Linked DNA regions of Homo sapiens. The protein of the gene in region 6 purifies or fractionates together with the protein of the main gene of each other region. This does not show direct contact. Each region holds a gene or a part of one and is shown on either strand. Other genes may lie near its edges. The genes, in order: CNNM1, SLC12A6, KCNJ8, TMEM120B, SLC12A7, GPR21 and GJA1.

Region 1 (4,421 bases), on a different chromosome or scaffold from region 6:
CTCAGGACAAGTATAGTGACCGCCATGGCTAGGGGATGTATAACCATTTATTGAATAAATGGTTTTAAATACCTAACTTCTATATTTCTATGTTTGAGTGAGGTGAACCCTAAGTACGGAATAATTAATGTTGTTCCTTGATCCCAGCAAATCTCTCCTCTTCCTCTTCATGGGCCTCTGTCCCCAGTAAGTGGCACCACTTGTCCCTTTAGTCTCCCAGACTAGAAAGCTTTCCTTTGCATTCACCTCATCCTATTAATCATTGTCGTCTGCACAGGCTGTCATTAGAAAATAGCATAGACTGGTGACCTAAACAACAGAAATTTATTTTCTCGCAATTCAAGGCTTTGACATCCAAGATCAAGGTTTTGGCCAACTCAGTTTCTGGTGAGGACGTTCTTCCTGGCTTGCATGTGGGTGCCTTCTCTCCATGGCCTTTCCTCAGTGCCTGTCCACAGACAGCAAGAGGCTCTGGTCCTCTCTTCTTAGAAAGACATCAATCCTGTTGGATTAGGGCCCACCCTTATGCCATCATTTAATCTTAACTACTATACTTCCTTAGAGGCCTCTCTGGGTGTCGTTAGGGCTTCAACATATGAATTTTGTGGGAAGACAAACATTCAGTCCATAACAATCACCAAAGCTGGCCAAATAATTGGATGCCAATATTGCATCCAACTGCAGTCATGTCATTTTGGTCAATGATGGACTGCATGTATGATGGTGATCCCATAAGATTACATTGGAGCTGGAAAATTCCTGTCACCTAGTGATGTCCTAGCAGTCATAACACCTAACATCGTCCTAAGGCAACACATTACCTTTACTATGTTTAGATACGCAAATACTTACCATTGTGTTACAATTACCTACAGTATTTGGCACAGTAACATGCTCTACAGGTTTGTAGCCTAGGAGCAATAGATTATAACATATAGCCTATGTGTGTAGTACACTATATCCTCTAGGTTTTGTGTGACTACATTCTATGATGTTCACACAATCATGAAATTGCCTAGCAATGAATTTCTCAGAGAGTGTCTCCATAGTTAAGCAGTGCATGACGATTTCTTAAATCTGTACATAATTTAATCCACTATTTGTTCCACTTAGGTTATTCACTGATTTTATTCAACAAATAGTTGTGTTGGCACAGTGGAGAACATCATCAACATAGTCCTTGTCTCTATAGAGCTTCACTCTAATACAGGAAACAGAAATTAAACGAACAGGATAGTGATTAAGAACATAAGATTTGGCCAGGCGTGGTAGCTCACTCCTGTAATCCGAGCACTTTGGGAGGCCGAGACAGGTGGATCATTTGAGGTCAGGAGTTAGAGACCAGCCTGGCCAACACAGTGAAACCCCGTCTCTACTAAAAATACAAAAATTAGCCGGGCAGTAATGGTGCACACCTGTAATTCCAGTTACTCAGGAGGCTGAGGCAGGGAGGTTGCAGTAAGCCAAGATCATGCCACTGAACTCCAGTGGCAACAGAATGAGACCCTGTCTCAAAAAAAGAACATAAGACTTACTAGAATGCCTGGGTTGATACTGGCCCTGGGCAAATTACTTAACTGTTTATGTCTGTTTCATTAGCTGTAAAATGAAAATAATACTAATATTTACTCATAAGATTGTGTGAAATATTAAGACTATCGCATTATGCTTACTTACTACCTGTCATGTAAGTACTAAGTAGATGTTAGCTATGATTATTAAATATAAACACAAGTCTATTACTCATTTATGCAAATGCCTCCTAAGAAGTTACACTTTTTCACATTTTTGTCTCCCTCAAATTCGTTCTCTCTAGTGCCACTAAAATAATCTCCAGTAATGTCACTGCTTAAAACCCTTCAGCAGCTCCCCGCTGCCTACGGGAGAGAGGCTAAGCTGGTAAGGCAGCCAGCAATGCACTCATGACCTGCTTCTTGCCCTCCCCTCCAGCCTCATCGCTCACCACTCCCTGCCACAGCTTTACCCTCCAGCAATGCTGAACTCTGTGGTGCACTGTGCTATTCTTGCCTTTGTCCCTTTATTCACATTGCACTTCTGTCAGGAATATGCTTTGCCTGACTAATTCATTGCCAGCTCTTTGACACTCAGCTCAGGGGCCTCCTCCTCTGGGAGACTTCTCCTGTAAACCCCAAAATACAAAAATAGATTTTTTGGCCAGCTTCATTGTTTTATGTGCATATCTCAATCATTGAACTAACAAGCTGTACTACCAGTGTTTGTTTATAAGTGCCTCCCACCCATATAATGAGCATCTCCAGGGCAAAACTGTCTTATCTGTCTTTGTAGCTCCAGCAGCTAACGATGCATATGACACATAGTAAATTTTCAATGAATGTTTGTTTAAGGACTGAATGGATGACTTAAGGAGTTAAACTTTAATATAATGGAAGAGATCTGCAGAGCACTAGAAAATGAATTAAATCATTTTGGACTATGCAGCAGAACAAATCAAACTTATAAGTTTGTTAGTGTTAGAAGAAAAGTGTTGCATCTATTGTTTCTCAGCTTCTTTAGGTACATCTATTAATATTTATTACAACAATTTCTTTTCACATGTAAAGCACTGTGCTAAGAGTTAGGGGTATGAGATAAAATCTCTGTTCCCAAAGAGCCTAAAGCATAGTGGATGAATAGCACTTCCCTTTGCAAAGCTAGAAGGCAAGCTGGACACTCACCTTTCCCATGACTTCCAGTGACCTTGAATTTACAAGTCATGTCTCAGTATATAAGTACAGGATATGGGTAAGACAGACCTTGGTACATAAAGCATTAAAATGAAAGTGCTATACTAGAAATGCAAAAATGCAATGGGAACATGGAGGATACAATAACTATGACTAGGTGGCATTTTTTTTTTTTTTTTTTGAGATGGAGTCTCACTTTGTCGCCCAGGCTGGAGTGCAGTGGTGTGATCTCGCCTCCCAGGTTCAAGCGATTCTCCTGCCTCAGCCTCCCAAGTAGCTGGGACTACAGGCATGTGCCACCATGCCCGGCTAAATTTTTGTATTTTAGTAGAGACGAGGTTTCACCGTGTTGCCCGGGGTGGTCTCGAACTCCTGAGCTCAGGCAATCCGCCAACCTCGGCCTCCCAAAGTGCTAGGATTACAGGTGTGAGCCATTGCACCCAGTCATATTTTGCTTTTATAAATTTTTTACTGAAGTTTATGTTTCTATAATTTATACAGAAAAAAATTTAAATATAGAATAGTAGAAAAAAGAAGTATGAAAATCATATGAGGATAATCATCCCACTATCCTGAAATAGTAACTCAATATTTTGTCATATTAAAAATATATTGCACATAATAACAATCTTAATGAAATTCTTAAAAAGAAAACAAAAGGAAAAGCCCATTGTCCTGCCATCAAGCACAAATCAAATGTCCCATTCTAATCTTAAGAGTGATTTTCTTATAGGGTGGTATTTTTGCTATAGTTTCCTCAGGGTTGAGTGCTATAATTTGGGAAGACTAATTTTAAAAATGGAGCCGTAGAGATTTATCATACTTCTTAAATTTACTACTCTATTATTGGATTGCTTTTAGGAGACACTGAGTTCTGTATAGACAACAGGGGAAAGGAATAAAGCTTTGTTCTGAAGTCAAAGCTTCTGAGTAATACAGCACTGACTGACATTTAACTCAATTAAACAATTCAGCTTTGCTGGGCTAGTAACACCATCTTTGCAAACAAAAAAGCACAACCCACGTATGCTAGGCTGCTCCACCTGTACACTAGCATGGCTGTAACACAGCCTACTGCACAATCCATACTCAGTCTTTGCTTATTCATTGATTCATTCAGTAAACATTTTTTGAATTCCTGCTTTGGGCCAGGCATTACACTAGACTCTGGGAATACAGTGGTGAGCTAGGCAGACATTATGGAGCTAAAAATATCCTCTTCCATCTTTGGTCTTCCTGCAAGTGGTCTGTTGCCCAAAGCAGGGGTCCCTAACCCCCAGACTGCAGAATGGTACCAGTTTGTGGCCTGGTAGGAACTGGGCCACACAGTGGAAGGTGAGCAGTGGGCAAGCATTACTGTCTGAGCCCCACCTCCTGTCAGATCAGCTGGGGCATTAGGAGCGAGAACCCTATTGTGAACTGCATATGCAAGGAATCTAGGTTGCGTGCTCCTTGTGAGAATCTAATGCCTGATGATCTGAGGTGGAACAGTTCCATCCCCAAACCATGCCCCCTCCCACCCTAGTTCATGGAAAAATCATCTTCCACAAAAGCTGTCCCTGGTGCCAGAAAGGTTGGGGACCTCTGGCCTAAAGTATTCCAACCAGCCAGTAAGTGTTCCTGGCCCAGACACACAATGTGACCTTTTCACTGCAGAATAATCTAGTCCAAAATGCCAGTGGTTTACTTTACACTCCAAATGCTGACCGTAGCTAT
Region 2 (4,421 bases), on a different chromosome or scaffold from region 6:
GAGATGTTAGAGACATAAAAGTAATTTAGATAAGTCCTTTCTTTAAGGAGTCATGTCCTCTCTGAAACCTTTTCTGATTGAACCCCATATCCAGATATAATAAACCAGGCTCTTTTTGTCCCTATATTGCTATAATACCTATATCACTATATTTTGTTTTTATTTACATATTATCTTTCTCAACTATGCTGTAGGGTTCTTGAGGACAAGGATACAAAATCATTTACACCTAGTGTAATATGTGATATCACATATAACTTGTACACCATAAATATACATTGAGTTGAAGATCTTGTAGACTTAAAAACAAGAGACAAATTAAAAACGTACTCTGATAAAGGCATATTAATGTATGTACGAGAGTAGTGCTACTTCATCTGGCTGCATAATGAATGATCTAGAGAGCTTTTCAAAAAATGCCTCTAGGCTGGGCGCGGTGGCTCACGCCTGTAATCTCAGCACTTTGGGAGGCCAAGGCGGGCGGATCACTTGAGGCCAGGCGTTCGAGACCAGCCTGGCCAACATGGTGAAACCCCGTCTCTACTAAAAATATGAAAACTTAGCCAGGTGTTGCGGTGCATGCTTATAATCTCAGCTACTCAGGTGGCTGAGGCATGAGAACCTGGGAGGCGGAAGTTGCACTGCAGCCTGGATGACAGAGCGAGACTCTGTCTCAAATAAATAAATACCTCTACCCTGACAAACAAAACCTAACAAAAAACAAAATTATCATTTTTAGTCACACACCAAAATAAGTGAATTATATTGTTTTGCTAATCATAGGTGACTATTACTTATTATTATTATTGTTATTATTATTTTTTGAGACAGAGTCTCACTCTGTCGCCCAGGCTGGAGTGCAATGGTGCGGTCTCCACTCATTGCAACCTCCGCCTCCTGGGTTCAAGTGATTCTTCTGCCTCAGCCTCCCCAGTAGCTGGGACTACAGGCACGTGCCACTACACCCAGCTAATTTTTGTATTTTTAGTGGAGATAGGGTTTCACTATGTTGGCCAGGATGGACTATTACCTTTCTCTTAAATAAGTCTTCTATATTATATAATTATTGAATACTATCCATGTTTTACCTCAGCATTCTAATAGCTAAAATATGTTGATTTGGTACCTTCTTAGCTTGTCTGAAAGAAGCATCCTCTTGATAGTTTTGTTTTTTTTGTTTTTGTTTTTGTTTTTTTTTTGAGACAGGGTCTCATTCTGTCAACCAGGCTGGATACAGTGGTGTGATCACGGCTCACTGCAGCCTCAACTTTCTGAGCTCAAGCAGTCCTCCACCTCAGCCTCTTGAGTAGATGGGAACACAGGTGCACACCACTATGACCAGCTAATTTTTTTTTTGTAGAGACAAGGTTTTACCATGTTGCCCAGGCTGGTCTCGAACTCCTGCATTCAAGCAGTTAGCCCACCTCAGCCTCCCAAAGTGCTAGGATTACAGGCGTGAGCCACCGCGCCCAGCTGGTTATATACCTTAACTGTTTTTCCTCTCTTCTCTATACTCTGTAGCCAGATTAAACTTTATAATATACTGCTTTATACCACAAGAAGCAATCAGCCAAATCCAGAATATGGGAAGTTTTATTGGATAACTAGATTCTTCAACAAATAATTGGGATGGGGTGGAGGAGGAGTGATGGGAAGAGAGGGAAAGCTGTTACAGATAAAAAGAGCCGTATCAGCCAAATGCAGTGTGTGAACTTGGTTTGGATTCTGATGTGCATAAAACAATTGAAAAAAGATACTTTTGAGACGAGTGGGGGAAATTTGAACATGTACATGATATTAATATTAAGGAATTGTTAATTTTCTTATAGATGTTTATGACATTGTGATAATGTAAAGCTGTTATCTATAAAGATATATATTGAAGTATTTACAGGTTAAATGAAATGTACTCCAGCTCCTTCCTCCCCACTCCTCCCCAAAAAAGTTGGGGAGAGATAGACAAAACAAGATTAGCAAATGTTTATAATTTGTTGAAGTAGAGTAAAAGGTACATTTTACTATTTCTTAGCTTTTATCTTTGAAGATGTCTGGGAACTCCTGAGCTCAAGTGATCCTCTCACTTGGGTCTCTCAAAGTGCTAGGATTGCAGGCATGAGCCACCATGCCTGGCCAATTTTTAAAAAGGTTAAATTACAATTAAAGGATTTTCTTTTGAGTGTGTCCTAGAATGCTGTAGATATTTGATTAAATATCAGTGATCAATACAGTGATTACCTCAACTTCTTGTCTTTGATCTTCGGTGGTCTCTTCTGTGTCCTCACTAAGTCTTTCCATCATGAGCCCAAATTCTTTTGTTCTCAGTGGCATGTTTCTAGATTCCAGATTCTCATAAATTTTGATATTACCTTTACTGGAATGGAAGGAAATGAAAGAAGGTACTCCTGCAAACCTGGGAACCTTATGAAAGTTATGCTTTCCCATTTTAAAGCTGTTAGAAGAAGGGGAATGTTTCTAATGCTGATGTTTAAGGCAACTTATAATGCTGTAAGCTTTTGAATTATGGCTGCTGCTTCTTTTGCCCTTCGTGTCTAACATATACTTCTGGACTACTAAGAACTTTGTGCAAATTCTAAAAAGGCACTCCTTTGTGCCCTGAGCCATCATGACTTCACTGGAGAAGGGCAAGCTGGATTTCAACCCTCTTCCCCTTGCCCTTCTGGCTTAATGCCCTCGTGCACTGTCTACACAGCTGTAGCTGGTGAGCTTGTTGTTTCAGAATAATGAAGTTACATGAGTTTAAGTTTTTGGTGATGTGTGTTTCTGAGGAGTAGGTATGAAAGTTTGGAGAGCTATAGTGTAGGAATTATGTGAGCATTTGAATGTTAAAACAATGTATTCTTTTAATGAAGTTTTATAAGTTTTACAAGTATGTGGAAAAACAAGAAGCTATTCTCTGTTAAAACCCTGTAATTAGTGCTTCAGTGTATATATGTTTTTATTTTTTGAGACAGGGTCTAGCTCTGTTACCCAGGCTGGACTTGGGTAGGCAGTGGCTATTCAGAGGCACAACTGTAGTACACTGCAGTCTTGAACTCCTGGGCTCAAGCCATCTTCCCACCTCAGCCTCCTGAGTAGCTGGGACTACAGGCATGCACCACCATGCCCAGCTAACTTTTGTATTGGCTTTTGGTAGAGATGGGGTTTTGCCATGTTGCTCAGGTTGGTCTCGAACTCCTGAGCTCAAGCGATCTGCCCATCTCGGCCTCCCAAAGTGCTAGGATTACAGGTGTGACCCACCGCACCTGGCCCTGGTATACTTTTAAGAATCTCAACAATTACATTTGAAGGTACAAGCACAAAACTGCAGAACATACAACATATACACATGCATACAGCACCTTGCCTTAATGGTAGTTCAGTACCTGATGAGTAGGAAACACTATCACCATATTTGCTCAGCTCTAAGGTGTGTACATTACCATATTTTAACATTTCTGATATTCAGGTGCGTCTTACTTTTGAAGAATTTTTAAGCTACTGTTAAAGTGGAATTTATACTTAACAAGATTTCAGAATCAAGTCAGTATTGTAAATAAGTCAGTCTGAGGGGCTTTGCGAAACCTGAAGTTTTGAAGTTACCTTTGGATGTCTTAACTGAAAAAAATGTAACGGCTGAAGTTTTTTTCTTCTTAAAATTTCAGTTTTTGTAGTTGAAAACTGTAGAAATAGAAAACAAAAGCCACATTGTTAGGAAATGACAGGTCTTCTAATTTTAGTCTTTTTTTTTTTCTTTTTAAAATTTCCTGTTATCTTAGCTCAGAGCTGGGTTTCAGTCTCCAGTTTTCTAGCTAATTTAACCAATGGCAGCTTTTTGTTTGTAGTTTTATTACGGCATTGCTAATCCTCATTATATTTGTCGTGGCCTTGAGCAAAAAACTCAATTGATGACATTCACCTGTTTATAGTCATAACCATTTGGTAAATAACTTTAATTTTTGGCAAAGTAGCACCTGAATTTCTCTCATTTTACCAGACAGGTCTACATTTACTTTGGGGTAAAGCTATTTATTTTTCATATTGCTAGTTTAAAAAAAGAGAGAAGAGAGAACACTAATAAGTTAAAAACTCTTATGTACACATCCACGTTTTCACTTTGAGGAGCTATGAGAAATTGAATCTAACCAAAATTTACTTTTATTCTATTTTGAGAGCATTTGCATTTACCATATCTAATTTTTTTTTTTTTTGAGACAGAGTCTTGCTCTATTGCCCAGGCTGTAGTGCAGTGATGCGGTCTCGGCTCACTGCAGCCTCCGCCTCACAGGTTCAAGCAGTTCTCCTCCCTCAGCCTCCTGAGTAGCTGGGATTACAGGCGCATGCCACCATGCCCGGTTGATTTTTGTATTTTTAGTAGAGACGGGGTTTTACCATGTTTAGGTCTCGAACTCTTGACCTCATGA
Region 3 (4,421 bases), on a different chromosome or scaffold from region 6:
TCTCCAAGTGGAGCCTCAGGTGCCTGTTTGATCTGTGAGTCTGGAGTTCAGAGGAACAGTTAGAACCCTTTCAGGAATGATTAACTCAATGACGTGATAAACAGTTTCTGTTCACCTGGTTGGAATCATGAGTCTTAAGATAGAACATTTCATAATTACCTATTTCAATGTTCATAAATACAAACCCCCAAATCTGTGTGAAAGATTTCACAATAGCTCAGCTTTCTGATGTTTAGCTATAAAATGTAAGAATAAAAGCATATATAGTTTATTAACCTAGTACTTCTCTCTCCTGTCTCATCCCTTCCTTGAAGAAGCAGGCACTAAATATGCTTAAATGAAGCTTTGATAGAAAATCTCACTTTAGCAAATGAGATGATGCTAAATCTATAAATGCCAAGCCTAAATTCAGATACTACTGGGAAGGAAGTATAGTTTTAAGATGGGAGATTGAAGATTAAAAAAAAAAGCTTATAGGATTTTTATGGTATGTCAGGCTTAGATTGAAAAACCAAGAGGACATTTTAAAACCTGAAATAAAATCAAAACAAAGCAAAAAAAAGCTAGTTTTGGAGCAAACAGACTTGAGAGAGAGGAATCTCAGAGTGAGTGTTATCACTTTGACATCTCTTTTACATGGCTCTAAAAACATCTTGAGTTTTAACTTGGGATGATTTTGTGAAAGAGGAATCACAAAACTACAGTGAGTACAAAGAAAATGTTTTAATAAAATATTCAATACAGTATTTCCCTGTGGGGATTCTAGAAGAAGAAGTGAGATGCTGAAGGAAGTGACTGTCACTGTGGGGAACCCAGTCCTAAATGAGACAAGACTTAGCTTTCCTTCAAAGACACCTTGTCCAGCTCTGCCCAACAGGCCGCAATGAGATGGACCAGGAAACCTTCAGGAGTCACCGACAGACAAAGCGAATGAACTGAATCCACTTACAAACAGATCCACTTAAGCAGTTTTTGCCTCAGGCTTCCTACCAAATGCAGTTATCATGGAGACAGGAGAAGGCTGATGTACAAAACGCATTAACATGATTTTGTTTTTTCCCCTCCTATTCTATTTGCATTTCCAGAGTGATCATTAGTAACACAGCGATCTGGGTTTCACCAACTAAGCATTTCAAACAGACTCATTTCTTGACCAAATTTTGTGCTCAAGGCCTGTTACTATTAGTGTAATTCTTGTGTTTCAAATTGAGAGAAACGAGCATACCCACCCCTGCACATAACTTAAGTATATCACTGCGAATTCTACATGTATGAAACAAGCATAAGCCATGAATCCTCCACTTGGTGTGTTACTTTTTATTACTACAGAAAGTGCTGTTGCTTGAATATGAATATCATTTAGTGTAATAAAATGTAGAAGGACACATTATTGTGTTCCAGCTCTGGTTCAGTCTGGCAGTGCCCAGCATAAACCGTCAAAACTTGATAAAAGACTGTCTTGGGGTTATCTTGCTGTCATGATTCCGATGTGTTTTGATTTCCTTCTGGAGTCATAAATTGCACCTTTGGTACCATGAGGGAAGAATTGTTCCTTCGGATAGAATTGTTCCTCCTCATGGAATTGTTTCTTCTCATGGAGTTGCGCTTCCTCAGAGAATTTTGATGAGACAGTTCACTCTTTTGGAGGGTCTGAATAAGGATGGAAGGTTTCTCATCCAGCTCTCGGGCACTGCACCGTGGAGCAGCTACTTTAACAGTGTTGCCAAATTTGGAGTAATCCACAGAATACACTCCTTCTTCCTCAGTCACAATGGACACAAAGCGGTGGCCCCATTGGATCTCCTCAGCAATGTAGGAGGTTCGTGCTTGTGTGGTGATGCCAGTAGTTTCAACCACTCCTTCCAGAATAACTATGACCTCCAAGTCTTGGTTGGCCAGGTCAGTTGCTGAGATGTCATACAGGGGACTGCGCTTGTCAATCACGTGGCAGATGATCAAAGGGGCCACCAGAAAAATGTTATTGCTCTCGATTGGGTTATCAACAGGAATGTCCAGTTGGTGAATAGGAACCACCTCCCCTTCAGGTGTAGTTGTTTTCTTGACCACCTGGATGCGCACAGAGGCACTAATGATCATGCTTTTCCTCAGGTCACCCACTCGGAACATGAAGCACAGCTTGCCATTTCGGACGGCAATCACAGCATGGCGGCTGAAAATCAAAGTTTCTGCCCTTCTGTGAGCCTGAGCTGTTTTCATGAAAATGCAGCCTAACATGACTGCATTGATGATCAAACCCACAATATTCTGGAGAATCAAAACCGTGATGGCCAAAGGGCATTCCTCTGTCATCATCCTCCCTCCAAACCCAATGGTAACTTGAACTTCAATGGAGAAGAGAAAAGCAGAAGTGAAAGACCTGTGAGGAATGATATCAGAAAAGAACACCATCAGGTCACATTTTGAATAATGAAATATGCCAAGCTGAGCTTTTCATTTTCTTCCACCAAAGACTATTAAATGCTTGCAGAAAGACTAGCCAACTTAAACTTGTAAAATGCCTAATTCTAAACTGTGTTTAGAACAGTCTCTCTCTCTCTTGCATGCATCTACCTCCAGACTTCTGGAGATTAACATTCTATTAATTAAGTTCCCTTAAGCTAAGGCCTAATTCTATTAACATTCTATTAATGTTTCATAGGTCACATAGTGATGGGCCTAATTTGTGTAAAAGATTAATATATTTTCATATATATGCATATTTTACCTTGCGAAATACTTCACTTTCACAAAGGCACAGTTTACTTTGTAAAACTTTCTACCAGGTAGATGTTTATTATTTATTGCGTATCTATGTTTAGGAGACTTGAGTCATATGGAAGGTACTGAGTACTGAGTGAATTTATTATTTATAATCTTTAAAATCATATTCATTAGCTAATACTTATTTTGTGTCTCATATAGAAATAGCACAGTGCTAAAAAAACTAGTATAAAACACATTATTCCAAACAACTAGTATTTTTAATAGAAGGGAGTTGTTTTCCATTTGGAAAGAAAAGTGTCTTATTGATGATCTAATTTTGTTAAGTCAGGGGTCCCCAACCCCCCCCCCCCCCACCTCCAGGCCAGGGACCAGTGCTGGTCCATGGCTTGTCAGGAACTAGGCCACACAGCAGGAGGTGAGTAGTGGGTAAGCCAGCATTACCGCCAGAGCTCTGCCTCCAGTCAGGTTAGTGGAGGCACTGGATTCTCATGGTATAGTGAACCTTATTGTGAATTGCACATGTGGGAGATATAGGTTATCCCTCCTTATGAGAATCTAATGCCTCATGATCTGAGGTGGGACAGTTTTATCCCCACACCATCCCCATCCCCCACCCCCATCAGTGGAAAAATTGGCGTTCCGCAAAACCAGTCCCTGGCTCCAAAAAGGTTGGGGAGCACTACTCTAGGTGTTCTGGAGAATACTGAAATGATTAAAGGGAGAACTAGGGGCAGAAACTAGTAAATGACTGTGTCAAGGTCACATACAGATATGCCTTATTTTATTCTTCTCTGCTGTAATGTATTTTGCAGATACTGCATTTTTATAAATTGAAGGTCTGTGGCAACCTTCATCCAGCCAGTCTATTATCACAATTTTTTCAAAACGTGCTCACTTTGTGTCTGTGTGTCACATTTTGGTAATTCTCACAAAATTTCAAACTTTTTCATTATTATTACATCAGTTACCATGATGTGTGATTAGTGATATTTGATGTCATTATTGTAATTGTTTAGGGCAGCAGTCCCCAGCCTTTTTGGCAACAGGGACTGGTTTTGTAGAAGACAATACTGGGGGGTGTGTGTGGGGGGAAATGGTTTCGAGATGAAACTGTTCCACCTCAGATCATCAGGAATTAGATTCTTACAAGGAGCCCGCAGCCTAGATCCCTCACCTTCGCAGTTCACCGTAGGGTTCACACTCCTATGAGAATCTAATGCCCCCACTGATGTGACAGGAGGCAGAGCTCAGGAGGTAATGTTTGCTCCCCCACTGCTCACCTCCTGCTATGTGGCCTGGTTTCTAACAGGCCACAGACTAGTACTGGTCTGCAGCCCAAGGATTGGGAACCCCTAGTTTGGGGCACCATGAGCCATGCCCATATAAGATGGCAAACAATCGATAAATGTGTGTGTTCTGAGTCCTCCACTGACCAGCTGTTCCCTTGTTTCTTCCCCTTTCATCAGGATTTCCTATTCCCTGAGACACAGCACTATTGAAATTAGGTCAGTTAATAGCCCTACAAAGAACACTAAGTGTTCGAGTAAAGGAAATATTCGCTGTCTCTCACTTTAAATCAAAAGCAAAAATGATTAAGCTGGTGAGGAAGGCAAGTCAAAAGCCACGATAGGCCAAAGTTTAGGCCTGTTGTGCCAAACAGCCAAGTTGTGAACAGTGGAAAGAAAAAGTTTTGAAAA
Region 4 (4,421 bases), on a different chromosome or scaffold from region 6:
AGCAAGTTTTCTGTGGACTGTTCCCCCCACTGTGGTAGGACAGGACTGGCCCACTTAGTCCTCAAGCTCCCAACCTGCTGTCCCTCAAGCCCCGCTTCTACCAGCCTGTGGAGTTCAGGAGGCGAGACATCCTGGCCTCCTTTGAGAACTGATGGGATCTACCCCCTGTCCACGCGGGACAGTTTCTCAGAACTGGTTCATAGACCACCTGTGTCACCAACAGCCAGATACCTAATCCCTGAGCCTCCTTTGGGAAGGTCTGGGGCCGAGGGTCTGGGAATTTTTTTTTTTTTTTTTTTTTGGGACAGAGTCTCATTCTGTCACTCAGGCTAGAGTGCAGTGGCATGATCTTGGCTCACTGCAAGCTCCACCTCCTGGGTTCAAGCGATTCTCTTGCCTCAGCCTCCTGAGTAGCTGGGACTACATGCGCACACCACCACGTCCGGCTAATTTTTGTATTTTTAGTAGAGACAGGGTTTCACCATGTTGGCCAGGCTGGTCTTGAACTCCTGACCTCGTGATCCACCCGCCTTAGCCTCCCAAAGTGCTGGGATTACAGGCGTGAGCCACCGTGCCCGGCCCAGGACTTTTAAAACAAGCATCCCAGGGGATTCCGGTGCCTACCAGAAGTCGCAAGCTGCTTGGCTCTGGAGGGCGCCTAGGAGTCGGTGTCGCCTAAGATGGGATAATGGCTTCAGGCAACTCCTAGCCTTCCCCATATCTCCTGCCTCAGCCCCCCTGGCCCAGTGCTGGGGCGTCAGCTAAACCTGAGCTTCCAAGAAGTCAGGTTGCCAAAGGAAGGAGCCTTCTGAGACCCTCCCCAACCCACCCAGGTTCCCAAGGCCCTGCCGTACCCTGGGGAATCAACCAAGGAGTTCTTGTTCTCGAAGAACCCCAGGCCTCATGATGGTCTACGGTAGAGGTCCAACAACTACAGCCTGTGGGCCACATCTGGCCACAGCCTGATTTGTAAATAAAGTTTTATTGGAACACAGCAACACCCATTCCTTTCTGCATTGCCTTGTGCTCTGGGGCTGCAGGTGAAGAGTAGCTGCCACAAACCACCTGGCCCATAAAGCTCAAAATAGTTGCCATCTGGCCCTTTACAGACAGCTAGCTGACTCCTAATCTAGGGCAAACGCAGGTGCCTAAAAAGGACCAGAAAGGAGACCAGAATGAAGGGCAGGGGGGTGGCAGGGCCTGTGGCAACTGGAGAGTAGGCGTCCTGTGCCACGGGAATGTTGCCAGGTCCGTTTTTCTAGGGAAAGCAGAAATCTGGATTTTTATGTGGAATCTCACTGTAGGGGTGGGGAAATCTCATTTTAAAAATGTAATCAGGCCAGGCACAGTGGCTCACACCTGTAATCCCAGCGCTTTGGGAGGCCAAGATAGGAGGATGAGTTGAGCCCATGAGTTGGAGACCAGCCTGGGCAACATAGTGAGACCCCATCTCTACTAAAAAGTATTAAAAAGTAGCAGGGTGACCAGGCATGGTGGCTCACACCTGTAATCCCAGCACTTTGGGAGGCTGAGGCAGGCAGATCACAAGGTCAAGAGATCGAGACTATCCTGGCAAACATGGTGAAACCCTGTCTCTACTAAAAATACAAAACAAAACAAAACAAAACAAAAGCCAGGCATGGTGGCACGCGCCTGTAGTCCCAGTTACTCGGGAGGCTGAGGCAGGAGAATCACTTGAACCTGGGAGGCAGAGGTTGCAGTGAGCTGAGATTGTGTCACTGCACTCCAGCCTGGGTAACAGATCGAGACTCCCATCTCAAAAAAAAAAAAAAAAAAGGAGCAGGGCATGGTGGTGTGTGATTGTGGTCCCAGCTACTCCAGAGGCTGAGGTGGGAGGATCCCTTGAGCCCTGGAGGCGGAGGCTACAGTGACCTATGATGCCACTGCACTCCCGCCTAGGCAACAGACCCTGTCTCAAAAAAAAAAAAAGTAATTAAAAATTTTAAAATTCCTTGAGGAGGGCTAAACAAGGCATGCCTGTGGGCACTGCTGTGAGGTCTGGCCTAGGGATTTGTAGGGCCACAGTTAGGGGGAGCTGAGGCCCATATATGAATGGTGGGGCAGAGCACTCAGCCAAACCTGGTGGCCTCTCTGCCTCCCGTCGAATGCAGAATCTCACCCAAGCGATGCCCAGTGGCTCTGACCCCGCCTCAGGGTGCGGCCCCTGGGGGTGAGCCTGCCAGGCACCCCCACCTCCCTCCCACAACATCCAGAAGCTCTGGGAAGGAGGGGGGAGGTGGTTCCCCTCCACAGGGGCCAAGGGTCTTGGTCCCACTCTCCAAGTACCTGCCACGACACTGCAGGAAGGTGGGCTGCAGGATGGGGGGGTCAGGGAACCCCGAAGCACAGACGGGAACGTCCTTGTCCCCTTGGACGACCCAGGGCCCGGGGCGCCCTCTGGTGGCGAATCTTCTCACAGCCTGACTCAGGATGCCCCCAGCGCTCCAGGGGCAAGAAGAGCACGAGGCAGACGCGGTGGGTCTCTGAGAACTTAAAATAACCCTCACCACGTGGCGGGGTGGGCGAGGAGGGGGCTCACAGCAGAAGCAGAGTGGCCCCGGGGTGGGGGCGCCACAGGACACTGAGGGTTCACACCACCCCAGCCTGGGCCTGGTAAGTAGCAGGTCAGCATAAATCCAACCCCGCGAGGCACATCCAAACCCCACCCAGAGGGGTTCAAATGACAGGAGTGGGAACAGAGGGGCTCCCTGAGGCTTCAGGCCCCATCCCCAGGAAGACTGGCCCGGCCTCAGCCACCTTCAAGCACAGGAGTGAGGCCTCGGGTTCCAGGGACGATGGGGGACCCAGCATTAAATATGTCATAAATAGGTGGGCGGACACTGTGCGGACAGGCGGGGCTCACATTCCTCTAGACCACTGGGGTCCACTGGGGGACCAGGGCCTGGGCCCTCTCCCAGCGATGCCACGGGCCTGAGAGGGCTGCTGGGAAGGAGCCCGGGAGCCCCCTGCAGTCTGAAGTCCGGGCCGAGGGCACAGGAGCCCGAGGCTCACGGCTGCTTTGTCTTGCCTCTGTTCTTCTGGAGCTTGGCATGCACGACTTTGAGCGTGGTCAGGAAGTTGCCGAGGAAGAGGATGAGGAAGGTGAACGCCAGTACGAACACCTGGGGGAGTCCAGAGAGGAGGGCGAGGCTGGGGCATCTGCCCTGCTGAACCCCTGCCCCCAGCACCCCAGAATCTCCAGCACAGCTGCCCCCAAACTCCCAAACTGCAGGGTTTTGCCATCGAAGGCAGAGATTCAGGAGACCTGGGGGAAGGGTGAGGCCTCAGGCTTGGGCAGGGCCTGGGAAGGGCTCGATGGGGCGAACCTCCTTGGGATCCACAGATTGGGAGAGGCTCCACCCCTAGCCCTTCCAGAAGCCTCCCGCCAAGCAGGCCCCCCACAACACCCCACACCTGCCAGCCCAGCCCGCCCCAGGAACCTCCCCACAGCACACCACACACACGCACACACCCCACCCCCACATCTGCCATCCCAGCCCTCCCCAGGAATCCGCACCCCAGCATGCCACACATACACCCCATCCCTGCCACCCCAGCCCTCCCGGGAACCTCCCCCGAGCATGCCCCCACCCCCCATACCTGCCATTCTCTGCATTCCTCGTGGCTGGAGAGCTCAAACAGCGTGACGGCATTGTAGAGCTGCCAGAACTGGAGAGGAAGGCAGGCGCTGCTCACCCACCAGACTCCCCTGGCCGGCCACGTAGAAAGCCAGGGTGATGGCCAGGCCCCTCACCCAACTTTGGGTATCAACTACCCACAACACTGACAGACACCCCCAAAATGAAATGCAGGCACCCGAGGCCAGGGCAGAGCTAGGTCAGTTCTGGCTCCTGCCTTGGCATCCCTGGGCCCAGAGGCTGCCCCGGCCCCAGGATGCTGTGGGCCCCAGCATGGGGACGGATGGAGAAGGAGGGCAAGGCCTGAAGACCTTCTGTTCCTGGGGGTCAGCCCAGACAGGAGATACCCACAAACTCCAGGGGGACTCACATGGCCACAGAAGAGGAAGGGCAGGAGAAAGGTGAGGCCCCGCCACATCCAGGACTGGAACCCTTCTGTGGAGAGGAGGGAAGAAAAAGGACCCGCTGAGGGGGTCCGCTGCCCCCACAGCTCCACCAGACGCCCACCCCCAGCCACACCAGTCACCCTAAGATGAGCCAGGGACAGTCACACATGCGGGGGGTCAGCCCTCACCTGTCATAGCTGGGTGGGCATTCACTATGACAATAGCAACCCTGTCACCTGGCCTGACTGCTCTCTCTCTTCAAGCCACCAAGAGCCAGGTGACAACACACAGACACTGGGCGCTATGTTGTTACTAATTTCTTTAATCTGCACAGGGTTTTGCATTTTATAATGAATTTTCACATGCATTAGTTCTA
Region 5 (4,421 bases), on a different chromosome or scaffold from region 6:
CCCGCCTGCCCGCCTGCCTGCAGGTTCGGGGAGGCCCTGCAGGGGAACCTGGTCATCGGCATGCTGGCCTGGCCCTCCCCCTGGGTCATCGTCATCGGCTCCTTCTTCTCCACCTGCGGTGCCGGCCTGCAGAGCCTCACGGGGGCACCGCGCCTACTGCAGGCCATTGCCCGTGACGGCATCGTCCCCTTCCTGCAGGTGAGTCCCGCACCCTCGTCGGGGGGACCCTGGAAGGTCAGGGTCGGGGGCTCTCCTCCCCTGCGGGATCCTCACAGTGCCGTGTGTGGGACGCATGCCCGCGGCTTGGACCCCATGGTGGTCATTCTGCCCCTGGCCACTGCACAGAGCATGGGAGTGGTGGGAGGTGGGTGGTGGGCAGAGGCAATTCTAGCCCTCCTGCCTGCAGGTCCCTCCGAGCTCGGCCCCGGGTGTGTCAGGAGCGGCTGTGAGGGCCCACAGCCACGTGTCCAGAGGTGCCTGGTCTGTTGTCTGGTCAGAAGCCCTCTGCCTGCCTGCCACATCTTTCTCTGTGTGGCTGAGCTCTTCAGCCCGTGGGAGGTGGCGTCACCAGCCACCTGCAGCCAGTGTGTGTGGCTGCTCTGAGGATTGCACGGACGCCCGCATGGGTCCTGTCCGTGTGCTGTGCCCAGAGCTGCCGATTGTGGCTCCTCCTGCTACCTGGGCCCAGGGGCAGCTGTGGGAAGGTCGTGGATGGCAGAGCCATCCTTGCCCGTCGCTGGTCCCTCGGCAGGGTGCCGACCCGCAGGGCCTTTGTGTGGTTGCATCTTCAGTCCCAGCCGGGCCTAGGGCATGGTGTCCAGGAAGGGGACAGGCACACAGGCCCCGTGGGCCTCAGCTTCTGGGAGGTGAGGGTGGCCTGATGAGAAAGGTCACCACAGGGTCTGGGGAACCGCGAGTGCCCTGGAGACGCTGGTCCTGTGTTGTGTGGTCGGGGAAACTGAGGCGGGGGGGCAGGCTGGGGCCACACAGGTTGCAGGCAAGCCGGGCGTAGGCACAGCTCTGAAGCCTCCTGGGCTGCAGCCCTTTGTCAGGGCTTCTTCCCAGGCCAGCCGCGTGATGTCCCGGGGACCTACTGTGAAAGGCGTTTCTGCTGGTCTGTGTCTTTAAGATTCATCTGGGCTAGACCTGACCAGCCTGCAGCTTCTCTCCTAAAAGGGTGGTGTCATCTGCCCCATCTTCCTGCCCTTCTCCCTGCAGGTGTTTGGCCACGGGAAGGCCAACGGGGAGCCCACGTGGGCGCTGCTGCTGACAGTCCTCATCTGCGAGACTGGCATCCTCATCGCCTCTCTGGACAGCGTGGCCCCGATCCTCTCCATGTGAGCCCCCACAGGACGGGGACCTGGGGATGGGTGTATGGGCCTGGAGCGTGGGGCAGTGTGGATGGGAGGTCCTGCTCAGGACAAGCAGTAGACAGGCATGGCCAGCTGTGGGCAGTCAGGATCCTGCCGGGAAGGGAGTTGCGCCGGGGAAGACAAGTACACAGGCCTCCAGGCAGCCGCCCGCTGGGGTCAGCCAGGGACAGTGTGGCTGGACAGACGGCTGCTGGGGAAGGGACGATGGCCCATCTCTTGATGGACCAGGTGGTCACAGGATGGCTGGAACCTGAGGGGGCCTGATTCGGAATCAGTCTGAGTCAGCTCACGTGCAGAGACAGACATGGGGAGACAAGGCGCAGGTGGGAGGGACAGTGACAAGGGTGGTCTCCCAGGTGGCAGTGACTGGGGGCTCAGGGGGGCCCAGTGGGCCCGTATCAGTGGCCGGCCGTCCCTGCAGGTTCTTCCTCATGTGCTACCTGTTCGTGAACCTGGCCTGCGCCGTGCAGACCCTGCTACGTACCCCCAACTGGCGTCCACGCTTCAAGTTCTACCACTGGTGAGGCCACTCAGCACGGGCGTGAGGAGCCCCACAGGCTGGGACACTGGGTGCCTCTGCCACTGGTGAGGCCGCTCAGCACAGGCGTCAGGAGCCCCACAGGCTGGGACACTGGGTGCCTCTACAAGGCCAGCTGCTCTGGGCCTGAAGACCCCAGCGCGTCCTTGACTGTTCCTTTGCGGAGTAAGCCCCTGCGCAGCTGATGAGACTGCACCTGAGGAAGGCCTCTGGTTACGAGGATGCCCAGGTGTCTGCATGTGCCTTGTACCTCCCGTGGTCAGCCCAGCCTTCCCAGGCTTGGGGCGTAGCCCATCAGGGCTGTGGGTCTTCTTAACTCCCCTCCCCAGGAATCAGGCGCTGGGTGGACGCTTCAGCCCCTTGTTGCATGCACAGCCGAGGTGCTGTGTGCACGCTGGGAGCTGGAGCTATGTACTGGGTTTTGGAGTGACAGCTCCCACAGGGGCCCAGGGAGCCACGTCACCCCTCAGAGGTGGTTGAGTACAGCCATGGTCGTCAGGCGTCAGTGACTGTTTTCCTAGTGTTAACAGAGAGTTTTACTGAGGGAGGGGCAGTGTCCGTGTGGTGGTGGCTGAGGTGTGGGGGCTGCATGGCGTTGGGCCGCCCCGAGCCACTTGCCCCGCCCCCAGGACCCTGTCCTTTCTGGGTATGAGCCTGTGCCTGGCGCTGATGTTCATCTGCTCCTGGTACTACGCGCTGTCCGCCATGCTCATCGCTGGCTGCATCTACAAGTACATCGAGTACCGCGGGTAAGCGCTGTCAGCCCCCCTTACAGACCCGGCGCACGGGAGGGCGGGCCCCTCTCATGCTATGCCTGGGGCAGCTCCCTGGAGGGGCCTCCCTGGGGCTTGAGCGTCGTGTGCCCTCACAGGGGCAGCTGGGAGCACGTCCAGGTGGGCTGTGTTGTGAAAGCTGGGGTTTCCCTCCCACTTCCAGCCAGGCCGAGGTGCCTGCACTTGTGGACAGGGTCTCCAGCCTGGAGCTCTGTCTCGTGCCGTCCTCAGCAGGCGGTGAGCCCACGGCTGACTATTCCTGCTACGTGTCTCGCGAGGTGTCCCCAGGTTGTGTCTGTACTCACTCGGCAGCCACAGGCGTCCTTCCCCGTGCCCCAGCACCCACCCTCCCTCCACCTGCACCCGCCTCGTGCCCGGGGTCCAGCCACTTCCCTGTCATGGGCCTCCTGTCCCCCGTCCTGTGAGGAAGGCACCTCACGCATGCTGGACGTAGACCTCGTTCCCTCCACAGCCACAGCACCCTCTGACCCGGTGGCTCCTAGGACGGGCTCCCTTCAGGGCAAGGGTGGGCATGGAGGCCTCCCTCCTCATCCAGGGACTTTTCCTGGGGGTCCTGTTTGCCCCAACTCACCTGCCCCCAGAAGTCCCCTTTCCCAGGTGGGAGAGGAGCCTCCAGGTACGCGGCTGGACAAACCCCGACTTCCTTTCCCACAGGGCCGAGAAGGAGTGGGGCGATGGCATCCGTGGCCTATCCCTGAACGCCGCCCGCTACGCCCTGCTGCGCGTGGAGCACGGTCCCCCCCACACCAAGAACTGGAGGTGAGCACCGCCCATGCCCCGTGGTCCTCAGACGCACAGAAGAGCTGTTTCTGAGGTCGGCCTTTGAGTGGGGACCTTTGAGTCTCAGGGGCCTCTCACCTTCAGCCGCTCAGGCAAGGTCTGGGGTGTGAACACTGCCTGGTGCAGAGCGGATGGCGCAGCTGGGGGCCGGGGGTGTCCCTGCTGCAGGGTGGGGGTGTGGGGAGCCGGCCCCTCTGCCAGCACAGCCCTGGGCTTGGGGTGGGAGAGGGTGGCTCCTGCTGAAGCAAAGGCCATCTTTGGGAAGCCTCTGCCCCTCAGGGCCTCGGCGGGGGCCTCAGGTGTGTGCCCCGGGCCATTGTCCCCTCAGGGGCCTCGGCGGGGGCCTCGGGTGTGCCCCGGGCCATTGTCCCCTCAGGGCCTCGGTGGGGGCTTCAGGTGTGTGTCCTGGGCCATTGTCTCACCTGTCTAGCATGTCACCTGTCCCACCTGTCTAACCTACCTGTTCTCCTGTCCTGCCTGGCTAGTGCCCACCTGTCCATCGGCCCTGCCTGTCCCACCTGGCTTCTGTGGCCTGTCTCACCTGTCACCTGTTCAACTTACCCCACGTGTGTCACGTTTCCCCATCCCATCTGTCACCTGCCCCTTTTGTCCCCTGTCCCGCCTGTCATGTATCTCCCGTCCCACCTGTGTCGTGTGCCCCGCCCGTCCCATCTGCCCTGCCTGTTGATGGGCCGTGCCCTGGTAAGCGTTGCCGTGGTAACAGCCGCCCCACCCTGGCTGCAGGCCCCAGGTGCTGGTGATGCTGAACCTGGACGCGGAGCAGGCCGTGAAGCACCCCCGCCTGCTGTCCTTCACGTCGCAGCTGAAGGCCGGCAAGGGCCTGACCATCGTGGGCTCGGTGCTGGAGGGGACGTACCTGGACAAGCACATGGAGGCTCAGCGGGCCGAGGAGGTGGGCCGGGCGGGGTCTGGGGG
Region 6 (4,699 bases):
CAGCTACCTTCAGTGCTTTGTATATGCATAGCCTCAATGTATTTGAGTAATGTGTGACAGCACTGTATTCAGATAGCTGTTGTATGACCTAGAACTGTATAGCCTCAGTAAGAGCAGGCCCTTCAGGATTCAGAGGAGCCCAGCCTTAAGCATTTCAACATGATGGGCAGGAAAACACTGGCTCTTAAGGAAGGCTACTTTAGTTGTAGGAGCAGAAAGTGAGTAAAGTTATATACCCCCTCTGTGCTAGGTGTTGGTAAGCCTTTTTTATATACTTTATTTCTCAACAACCCTGTGAAGTAAGGAGTGTTGTTCTCATTTTACAGATGATGAAACAGAGGCTTAAGAGAGGATAAGTAATATTAGAGCAAGAATTTGAACCTGATTATTGTTCCTTCGATGCTATTGGTCTTTTTACTGTGCCACACACTTCGCTCTGTTTCCCAATAAGACCTGTCAAATATTACTATCAGGATTACGGTTAAATAGGTTTTTTATTTTGGGGCTATGGCCGCGTCTGGGACTGGCCAGACAACTGCTGCTGCTTCAGATTTAAAATGTAATTCATCGCATTCTGATTATGGGTGGCCATTTGTCTGTAATTAGAAAGCATGTGTATAAAATGAATAAAAATGAAAGTTGGATCACATGTTTTTACTCAGTTGCCTACCTCTTGGAATGCTTTCAAATGCCGGCATTTGTTTATTGTCTTTTATTCTGCTGGATACTTTCAATTAATCCTTCTAAATAAAGATACTAAAATTACACATTTTCATAGCACCCAACTCTGTTAGCTGAAAATTGTCATCATTTATGACATTACCAGGAAAACCACAATATAATATGATACAGTTTGCATTGTTTTAAATAGGCAGAAGCAAGATTGTATATTCTAAGATACAAAGGCTTATTTGTACCATGAAACTTCCTGTAATATCCATGCCTGAGTAGAAGAAGGTACATTTACTTTTCTATCTTCTGTTTGTATTCTTGTTTACTGCTCAGCAAATTAGAAGCAAGAAATGCATCTCAAAATTATAGCGTAGTGTCAAATATGGGAACAGTGTAATTTATCTGTGCTATTTGTGTAGTATTCAGAATGGGAGATACTTTATTTTTCTCTTGAAAAAGTGATCTTAAAGTTTCTTGGCCAATATTCAGTGAATCATGAGAGACAAAATTAATGGTGAATAGCCTTCTAGCTAGAACTTCTTGTGCAGCTGAATTATGATTCTCAGTTGCCATACGCCATACACTTAAAGGAAGTTAACATACTTCCTTTCTTTAATATTGCTCTTTGTTCTTTGGGAAAATGCCGTGAGAAAATAGAAATTACCCCTCTGGTAGTGTGTTTCAGTCTAATTCCTGACACCCTGTTCTGTTACTACCCCTTCTCCTTGCTAGCACCCTGAATTCTGCTTATCTACTAAAAGGGGGATTCCAGACAGACGAGGAAACAGCCTTCAAATGGTGCACTGCAGGCATAGCAAGCCATTCCCACACTGTGCAGTCTGGAAATCGGGGCACCTCTCTGACGATGAATTCCAATTAGTTGCTAAAGATGCCAGAGTGTGTGCACGTACAGGCTTTTTCTTTCCCCTCCCCCTTTCTTCCTTTTCCCAAGCCCCCTCTTCTCCCTGTTTCCCCTCCTACTCCTTTATCTCCTCCCTCCGTGTCTTAGTTCTGCAGTACGCGGGTTGAAGCACATTCCTGCTTTGCAAGGCTTTCTGCTAAGGATGTATTGTGGCTTTTGTTTGGATTGCAGCATGCAGAATTACAGGTAACATTCTGAAATTGAACTAAACAGTAAATTCTGTTGAAATGTTTTCAAAGAGGCAAAATATTATATTGGAATCAATGAAGAAAGTAAATTATCTTGGCTAATTTTATTAGTGGTAATTGTAGTGAAAGGTTTTCCTAAATATTATAAGCAAATTCCTTTTCTCCCCCGTCTCAAATGAAAGGAAATGGGGGTAAATTAATCTGACTGTGATTGGTTTTGTTTTATGCTGATCTTGAAAGCTTGATGTTGCTGCTGCTCCTCTATACAGTACAGATCAGTTGTGTGGGGTGCTATTGAGGGTAGCCGTGAATAGTGGTGCCAGTAGGGGTGGAGCGGGAGGGATGATGCCAGCCTGAGCTAGCCAGGTTCTTTGATTAGGGCATTGGATGTGAAATGTAAAATGCTCTCTCCTTTTCTTCTATCAGCTGTTCAGAGGAGACTCATTACAACTCCTGCTGAAGCTCCTAATCTTCTTCCCTTCTCTTCTACCCTTTCCCCCTACCCTCACTTGGCCTGAAGACGTTCTCCCCAGAGTTTACCTTGCTCCCCTGGTGCTATGTGTATGGTGAACCTGGCACTATGGCCGCGTCTGGGACTGGCCAGACAACTGCTGCTGGCTCTCCTTATTCCAGGAAGGATTTAAAGGGGAATTGCACTGCAGGCAATGCACCAGAGCAGCAGCATCAGGAGCTTGGGGAGTAAGGCTCCTCTGGCATTATTACACACATGCAAAGCTGACCGCAATGACAGCAGCTGCTTCTTTGAACTGTTGGCAGCAGCCAAGCGGCAGCATGAAGTGACAGATCACTCCTGAGCTCAAGATGAACTCCACCTTGGATGGTAATCAGAGCAGCCACCCTTTTTGCCTCTTGGCATTTGGCTATTTGGAAACTGTCAATTTTTGCCTTTTGGAAGTATTGATTATTGTCTTTCTAACTGTATTGATTATTTCTGGCAACATCATTGTGATTTTTGTATTTCACTGTGCACCTTTGTTGAACCATCACACTACAAGTTATTTTATCCAGACTATGGCATATGCTGACCTTTTTGTTGGGGTGAGCTGCGTGGTCCCTTCTTTATCACTCCTCCATCACCCCCTTCCAGTAGAGGAGTCCTTGACTTGCCAGATATTTGGTTTTGTAGTATCAGTTCTGAAGAGCGTCTCCATGGCTTCTCTGGCCTGTATCAGCATTGATAGATACATTGCCATTACTAAACCTTTAACCTATAATACTCTGGTTACACCCTGGAGACTACGCCTGTGTATTTTCCTGATTTGGCTATACTCGACCCTGGTCTTCCTGCCTTCCTTTTTCCACTGGGGCAAACCTGGATATCATGGAGATGTGTTTCAGTGGTGTGCGGAGTCCTGGCACACCGACTCCTACTTCACCCTGTTCATCGTGATGATGTTATATGCCCCAGCAGCCCTTATTGTCTGCTTCACCTATTTCAACATCTTCCGCATCTGCCAACAGCACACAAAGGATATCAGCGAAAGGCAAGCCCGCTTCAGCAGCCAGAGTGGGGAGACTGGGGAAGTGCAGGCCTGTCCTGATAAGCGCTATGCCATGGTCCTGTTTCGAATCACTAGTGTATTTTACATCCTCTGGTTGCCATATATCATCTACTTCTTGTTGGAAAGCTCCACTGGCCACAGCAACCGCTTCGCATCCTTCTTGACCACCTGGCTTGCTATTAGTAACAGTTTCTGCAACTGTGTAATTTATAGTCTCTCCAACAGTGTATTCCAAAGAGGACTAAAGCGCCTCTCAGGGGCTATGTGTACTTCTTGTGCAAGTCAGACTACAGCCAACGACCCTTACACAGTTAGAAGCAAAGGCCCTCTTAATGGATGTCATATCTGAAGTGGCTCAGTTACGGGGTTCCCGTGTGTGTGTGTGTGTGTGTGTGTGTGTGTGTGTGTGTGTGTGTATTTTATCTCTAAGTATTCCTAATTCACTAGGAAATCTGGGACAGAATACTTTGACTCTAAACAATAGCATACAAATTATTCGTATGGATACCTTCTAAGTTTGTAGAAATGGTTTTCAAAAGTGCTTGTGAATTAGAAGACTCAAGATCATGAAGACAAATTGCTCTTGCTCTCAATTTTTGAAATGTCTTGGAAATGACTACAGTTCTCAGATTTAAAATGAATAAAGCCATATCTAACACCTCTTTCCAGCTGGCATGACTGAACCTGAGTGTGAAAAGCGTCAGCATTTTAAAAAGTCATCACTTTCTTGTCACTTTCTGGGCTCTTTCCAGCTATTTGGGCTTCATATGCAATTGATTTCTTCTAACGGAATAGTAAAATATAAATGAAAAGGTTTTAGAAATTACTTTTTATGTATGCCAAAGCATAACTACACTGCAAGTTTCAACACTGTCATTTAGAAAGCCAAATGTTCTGTGTTTTATTCTCTTGAGAGAATTCTCAGTAGGGTGAATAATGTGAACACATAAACATTAATTTTAGAATTTTACAGTGAACCATGAAGCAAAAGTGCAATCAAATTATACAATTTATGAAAAACTGAGCTACTTTTTGTGCCATGCTTCACAGAGATCTAAAGATATGTGTGCGTAGAAGTAATCGTGTAGTACTTTTGCCCATGCCTTTGTGTTATGTCTATATTTAGAATATCTGAATTGTTAGATTTCTCTTTTACAGCAAAATGTGCTTAAGCTAAAAAGTAATTCAGTGATAGGCTGTTGGCTGTCCATTTTATAATGGTGACTATATACAAAAATGTGTCTTTAATATTGTCTGTTCTTTCTATTCAAAGACTTCTGAAATATTAGAACATCAGGGAGAAGGGTGTCGGTCATAAGCAACTGAGTCAGAAAGTATACCGTAGTATACAGATTGTTTTTTTAAAATACAAGGTAGTTGAGACATTTTCTTTG
Region 7 (4,115 bases), on a different chromosome or scaffold from region 6:
AAAAAAACCTGCAACATTTCAAAAGATGTTATATTAGTCATTTCAGTGAAAGTTTAATTAGGGAACGGTGTCTACCAGAATATATTTGGCATCCTTCTTTTTTCTGGTATTTGCCTGAGTGAGAAAAGTGTTAGGAATAGGAAGGCCAGATGAGTTTGCTTTCCCTCCAGAGAATACTGGCCAAGAAATTTCCTGTCCAACCTCAGGAGCATCACTGAAGCCTGTTTATGAGGAATTGTCCTACCACAACACTGTGTTATGGCATTTGGGAAGCCCTCAGAGGAGCTGCCTGCTCTAAGATTGAGGCCACATGACTCAGGCCATTATAAACCCTAATGCAGAGCCCTGAAGAGGGAGAGCATTTGGAAGGGGATAGGGAAGCACATAAAGATGATATGCTCAGCTTTACTGTCGTTGGGCAGAAAACTCTCTAGTGGGCTTGAGAGGGGGAACTGATTTTAAGGAGGGCTGAATAGTTTGGGAACCTACTTAATGCAACCATAGTCTGTATTTTTAAAATCCTCACATTTCACTACAGATTTGGGTTTTAGTGTCTTGGCATAAATAGGGCCTTAATATAAATTCTTAGTTTTCTGGAGACATGGTAGAGGTCAGATATCAAGATTTCATAGGCAAACAAAACATGCTATATATGTAAAAAATGTATATACACACACAGCCTTTTGCTAAACTGAAAGAAAGTAAAAATTCAAAGCAGTCAAGGGGTTGAAAGATGGATTGGGTATGGACTTTTCTTCATCTATGTCAATTTTTGAAATCTCTCTCCCATCTCCACCATTCCCTTTGTTAATTGTCCTTGCTTACATTTAAAGGAAGGGAATTAGATCATCAAACAGGTCACTCACACCTACCTCTAACTTCACACACCTTGGTCAATGTGAAACAAGCTTGAACTGGTTATATGCTTCCCCACCATTTTTATTTATTGTAAGCTACTTTAAAAATTTTAGACAATGTTGTAATAAAAATATACACCTTTTTCCCCCATTATCCCTGGTCTTCTGGTGAAGCAAGCAGTGTAATCAATGATTCTTATGTGTGAGGAGCAACTCCAAGTAGAGGCGTTCATGTCCCTAATGCTTTTTTATTTTTCCTCATCAGCAAATTTAAACTACAACTTTATCCTGATCCCACTGCTGCTCTTTGCCTCTTCTCCCCCCAGCCCTTCCACATTTACCAGCCTCCTCCCTACCTCCTCCCAGCCTTTCCCTTTGCCCTCCCCTTTCTTCTAGCCCCTCCTCCCAGTTGAGTCAGTGGCTTGAAACTTTTAAAAGCTCTGTGCTCCAAGTTACAAAAAAGCTTTTACGAGGTATCAGCACTTTTCTTTCATTAGGGGGAAGGCGTGAGGAAAGTACCAAACAGCAGCGGAGTTTTAAACTTTAAATAGACAGGTCTGAGTGCCTGAACTTGCCTTTTCATTTTACTTCATCCTCCAAGGAGTTCAATCACTTGGCGTGACTTCACTACTTTTAAGCAAAAGAGTAAGTTTTTAAAAAATGAGAACACGTTACCTATTAGTTTCTTTTTCTACAAGTAAAACTTTTCTAAAGTTTTAAAATGTGTTAAATGTAATTTTGAATTATGATACTGTAAATGGATTGATGGATTTGAAAGTGTTTCTATAGTTTTAAAGTTAAAATTTATTGTACCAAATATATATTTTGACTGTTAAAAAAGTTTCTATTAACATTGCAACAGGTGAAAAGGTTCAAACCTTTCCGATTAGAATAAAGGATTAGTTTACTGGATGTTTGGTTTTTCATTTTAGAGTATCATTTTATTTTGTTTTTTTTTTGTAATCAGTAATAGTCTAGGTGCTATCATTTGTTGGGTGGGGGGGGGGCGGTTAGGCGCCTGGGTTGGGGGATTTGACTGACTACATCGGAAAAATCAAAGTGCAAATTTGCTTAGCGTGCTTCCTATAGTATTCTACACTTCATAGAATAAAGTGCTTTTTTCATATGGAAATCTTGATTGATGTTCTATAGCTTTGCAAAGCCAACTTCTTTTGTGACGAAGTGCTTTGTTAAAACATCGTGGTTACTTGACTTCCACGTGGTTCCTTCCTAGAATTTTCCCCATTAAACAAAAAGGTATAAAATTCAAGAGTATTAATATTATGCTTTAAAAATCAACAGTAAATTGTTACTTTGTGTTAGCAACCGCTATGGAAAGATTTGAGACCCTCAGGAGAGACAGCTTTTACTCGACCACGTTGGCAGTTTAGGAGATGAAATCTCTTGAATGGGTGGTGGCTAGTTACAGAGCATTAGAGATCAGACGTTTAAAAAAGAGTGTATGCCAGGGTACTTTTCCAAAACCGTCTCCTAAAACGGGAGCTCCTAGAAAGAGCAGGAAAAAAACTTTCTTAAACAGCGCTTTGGGAGCTCCCCCCGCCAACACCCGCCGCCCCGCACCTTCCCTCTGCTCGAACCTGTAACAGAATTCAGAACTCTGGGGCAGTTCTTTGGAGTTGGAGCTCCTAGGGCAAAGATAACGCTAATGCGTTGTTTAAAAGGGTTCAATTTTTAAAATACTTTTATTGGTAACACCCATTCTGTTCATCAGAAATGCAGCCATGCATTTTTGTGCCCGGTAAAGATTTTCTGTTCTGTGTAAATCTACAAACTAAAATAATTAGTTTAGATTCTTGACGTGACCCTGCAGTGGAAGTATTTGCACCAGTGAATGCTGAAAAGCAAATAAAAATGAAAGCTTTGCGGAGGCCGTGGGCCGGACGGGCGCGGGGCGCCTCCTGCCATCTTAGCGTCTGCCGGGATCCTTCCCGCGCCTTCGCTGCCCGAACCAGCTCGGTCTTGGGACGTTTCCCCCAAATCCTCACAAGTCAAATCGAACTCAGGTCCGAGTTCGTCACTGCAAAGGAACCCGGGGTGCGGGGTGGGAGGGATAGGAGGAGAGATGGGCTGGGTGCCAAATGGTAGAACAAATGGTTGATTTAATTAAAGTTGTCAATCTAATTTCCCATCCCTCTCACACCAGCCCTTTTTTTTTTTCTTTTTCTTTTTTCCTCTTAAACTTGCTGAATCCCACTATCTCCGCGTTGGTAAGAAAACCTGAATACCTTGGGAATTGTGCTTAAATTGCACTTGCAACTCCCCTGGAAGTTCCTGAAACTTCCCGAGAATGAGGCGGGGCGGCTCAAGGGGAAAGGGCAGGGAGGAGAGACCCTCGGGAAGCTGATGACGCGTCCGGGGCAAGTCAGCCTGTTTCCGAGACGCGCGCCTCACGGTCGTAGCAGCGCTGCGCCCACCCTGCCCCTTTAGTGACCCAGCCAGCCTTTGCTGGGGGTTTCTGATAACGCTCATCGATAAGCTCTCCTTGCTCCCAAAAGGCGTGCTTCTCTTTCTCTCCAGGTACAAAGTAGGGGTGGGAAGGGGAGAGCTACACAATGTTGTAAAAAGAAGCGTGGCTTTATTTGGAAGACGGTTGAATTTCTTTTGCTTCCTCGACCCAGTTAGTAACGACAAGAAAGATACTGAATATCGCCCTCCGAAAATCGGGCGCATTTGAACTCGGTGAAAAGTGTCCCTGTGAGGAAGCCTAATGTTTACTTTTGTGCAAGGATAACTGGAAATTAAAGCGTCTAGTAATGCAGAGATTTCATTAAGCGAGCGCTCCCCTCCCCCCCGCGCCAGGAATGAAATAAGCCAGTTAGACAGAAAACACTTTTGGGAGAAGACTAATTACTTCTGGGTAGGCCGAATTGACTGGAAATTATACCAAGCAAAGGCAGTACATTCCATTCCGTCCTGGCGATGTTGATTCTATATTATTAGAACATTGTTCCCCCAGTGTGGGGGTGCTTTGTACTTCCCAAAGTCAGGGTAGACTGGTTACCTGGGAAAATGCAGTGTTAGTGCTTTGCTCCTACTTTCTTCACTGTTTAAACATGTTCCACATTTTTCTAATGCCTTCTGAGGGTTCTCAACCCAGCCACTGAGTTCCTCACCCTTGGCGACTGTGATACCAACAATGCTGTCACCCTCCTTGGGAAACATGGTTGCAAAGATGCTCCGCAGGAGGCAGATAAAAGGCTGTGCTTTCAGATACTGAAGGTTGCTTTGTTACTTAGA

Evidence for each region.
Region 1: the proteins of GPR21 (region 6) and CNNM1 purify together in Homo sapiens (affinity purification with mass spectrometry; 2 studies listed by BioGRID and IntAct, with this or other methods). This does not show direct contact.
Region 2: the proteins of GPR21 (region 6) and SLC12A6 purify together in Homo sapiens (affinity purification with mass spectrometry; 2 studies listed by BioGRID and IntAct, with this or other methods). This does not show direct contact.
Region 3: the proteins of GPR21 (region 6) and KCNJ8 purify together in Homo sapiens (affinity purification with mass spectrometry; 2 studies listed by BioGRID and IntAct, with this or other methods). This does not show direct contact.
Region 4: the proteins of GPR21 (region 6) and TMEM120B purify together in Homo sapiens (affinity purification with mass spectrometry; 2 studies listed by BioGRID and IntAct, with this or other methods). This does not show direct contact.
Region 5: the proteins of GPR21 (region 6) and SLC12A7 purify together in Homo sapiens (affinity purification with mass spectrometry; 2 studies listed by BioGRID and IntAct, with this or other methods). This does not show direct contact.
Region 7: the proteins of GPR21 (region 6) and GJA1 purify together in Homo sapiens (affinity purification with mass spectrometry; 2 studies listed by BioGRID and IntAct, with this or other methods). This does not show direct contact.

What each region holds. Positions count from the first base shown.
Region 1 is NC_000010.11:99,335,428-99,339,848, forward strand, and holds part of CNNM1 (metal transporter CNNM1), read left to right. Parts: intron 1-4,421. UniProt on the Homo sapiens protein: Probable metal transporter.
Region 2 is NC_000015.10:34,327,445-34,331,865, reverse strand, and holds part of SLC12A6 (solute carrier family 12 member 6), read left to right. Parts: intron 1-4,421.
Region 3 is NC_000012.12:21,764,247-21,768,667, forward strand, and holds the end of KCNJ8 (ATP-sensitive inward rectifier potassium channel 8), read right to left. Parts: intron 2,378-4,421; coding exon 1,477-2,377; 3' UTR 709-1,476; downstream 1-708. UniProt on the Homo sapiens protein: Inward rectifier potassium channels are characterized by a greater tendency to allow potassium to flow into the cell rather than out of it.
Region 4 is NC_000012.12:121,774,331-121,778,751, reverse strand, and holds part of TMEM120B (transmembrane protein 120B), read right to left. Parts: intron 4,095-4,421; coding exon 4,030-4,094; intron 3,691-4,029; coding exon 3,622-3,690; intron 3,144-3,621; coding exon 3,030-3,143; 3' UTR 1-3,029. UniProt on the Homo sapiens protein: Necessary for efficient adipogenesis. Does not show ion channel activity.
Region 5 is NC_000005.10:1,073,610-1,078,030, reverse strand, and holds part of SLC12A7 (solute carrier family 12 member 7), read left to right. Parts: intron 1-23; coding exon 24-198; intron 199-1,218; coding exon 1,219-1,337; intron 1,338-1,794; coding exon 1,795-1,893; intron 1,894-2,540; coding exon 2,541-2,660; intron 2,661-3,359; coding exon 3,360-3,464; intron 3,465-4,229; coding exon 4,230-4,398; intron 4,399-4,421. UniProt on the Homo sapiens protein: Mediates electroneutral potassium-chloride cotransport when activated by cell swelling. May mediate K(+) uptake into Deiters' cells in the cochlea and contribute to K(+) recycling in the inner ear.
Region 6 is NC_000009.12:123,031,963-123,036,661, forward strand, and holds GPR21 (probable G-protein coupled receptor 21), read left to right. Parts: upstream 1-1,704; 5' UTR 1,705-1,780; intron 1,781-2,208; 5' UTR 2,209-2,604; coding exon 2,605-3,654; 3' UTR 3,655-3,703; downstream 3,704-4,699. UniProt on the Homo sapiens protein: Orphan receptor.
Region 7 is NC_000006.12:121,434,331-121,438,445, forward strand, and holds the start of GJA1 (gap junction alpha-1 protein), read left to right. Parts: upstream 1-1,315; 5' UTR 1,316-1,502; intron 1,503-4,115. UniProt on the Homo sapiens protein: Gap junction protein that acts as a regulator of bladder capacity. A gap junction consists of a cluster of closely packed pairs of transmembrane channels, the connexons, through which materials of low MW diffuse from one cell to a neighboring cell.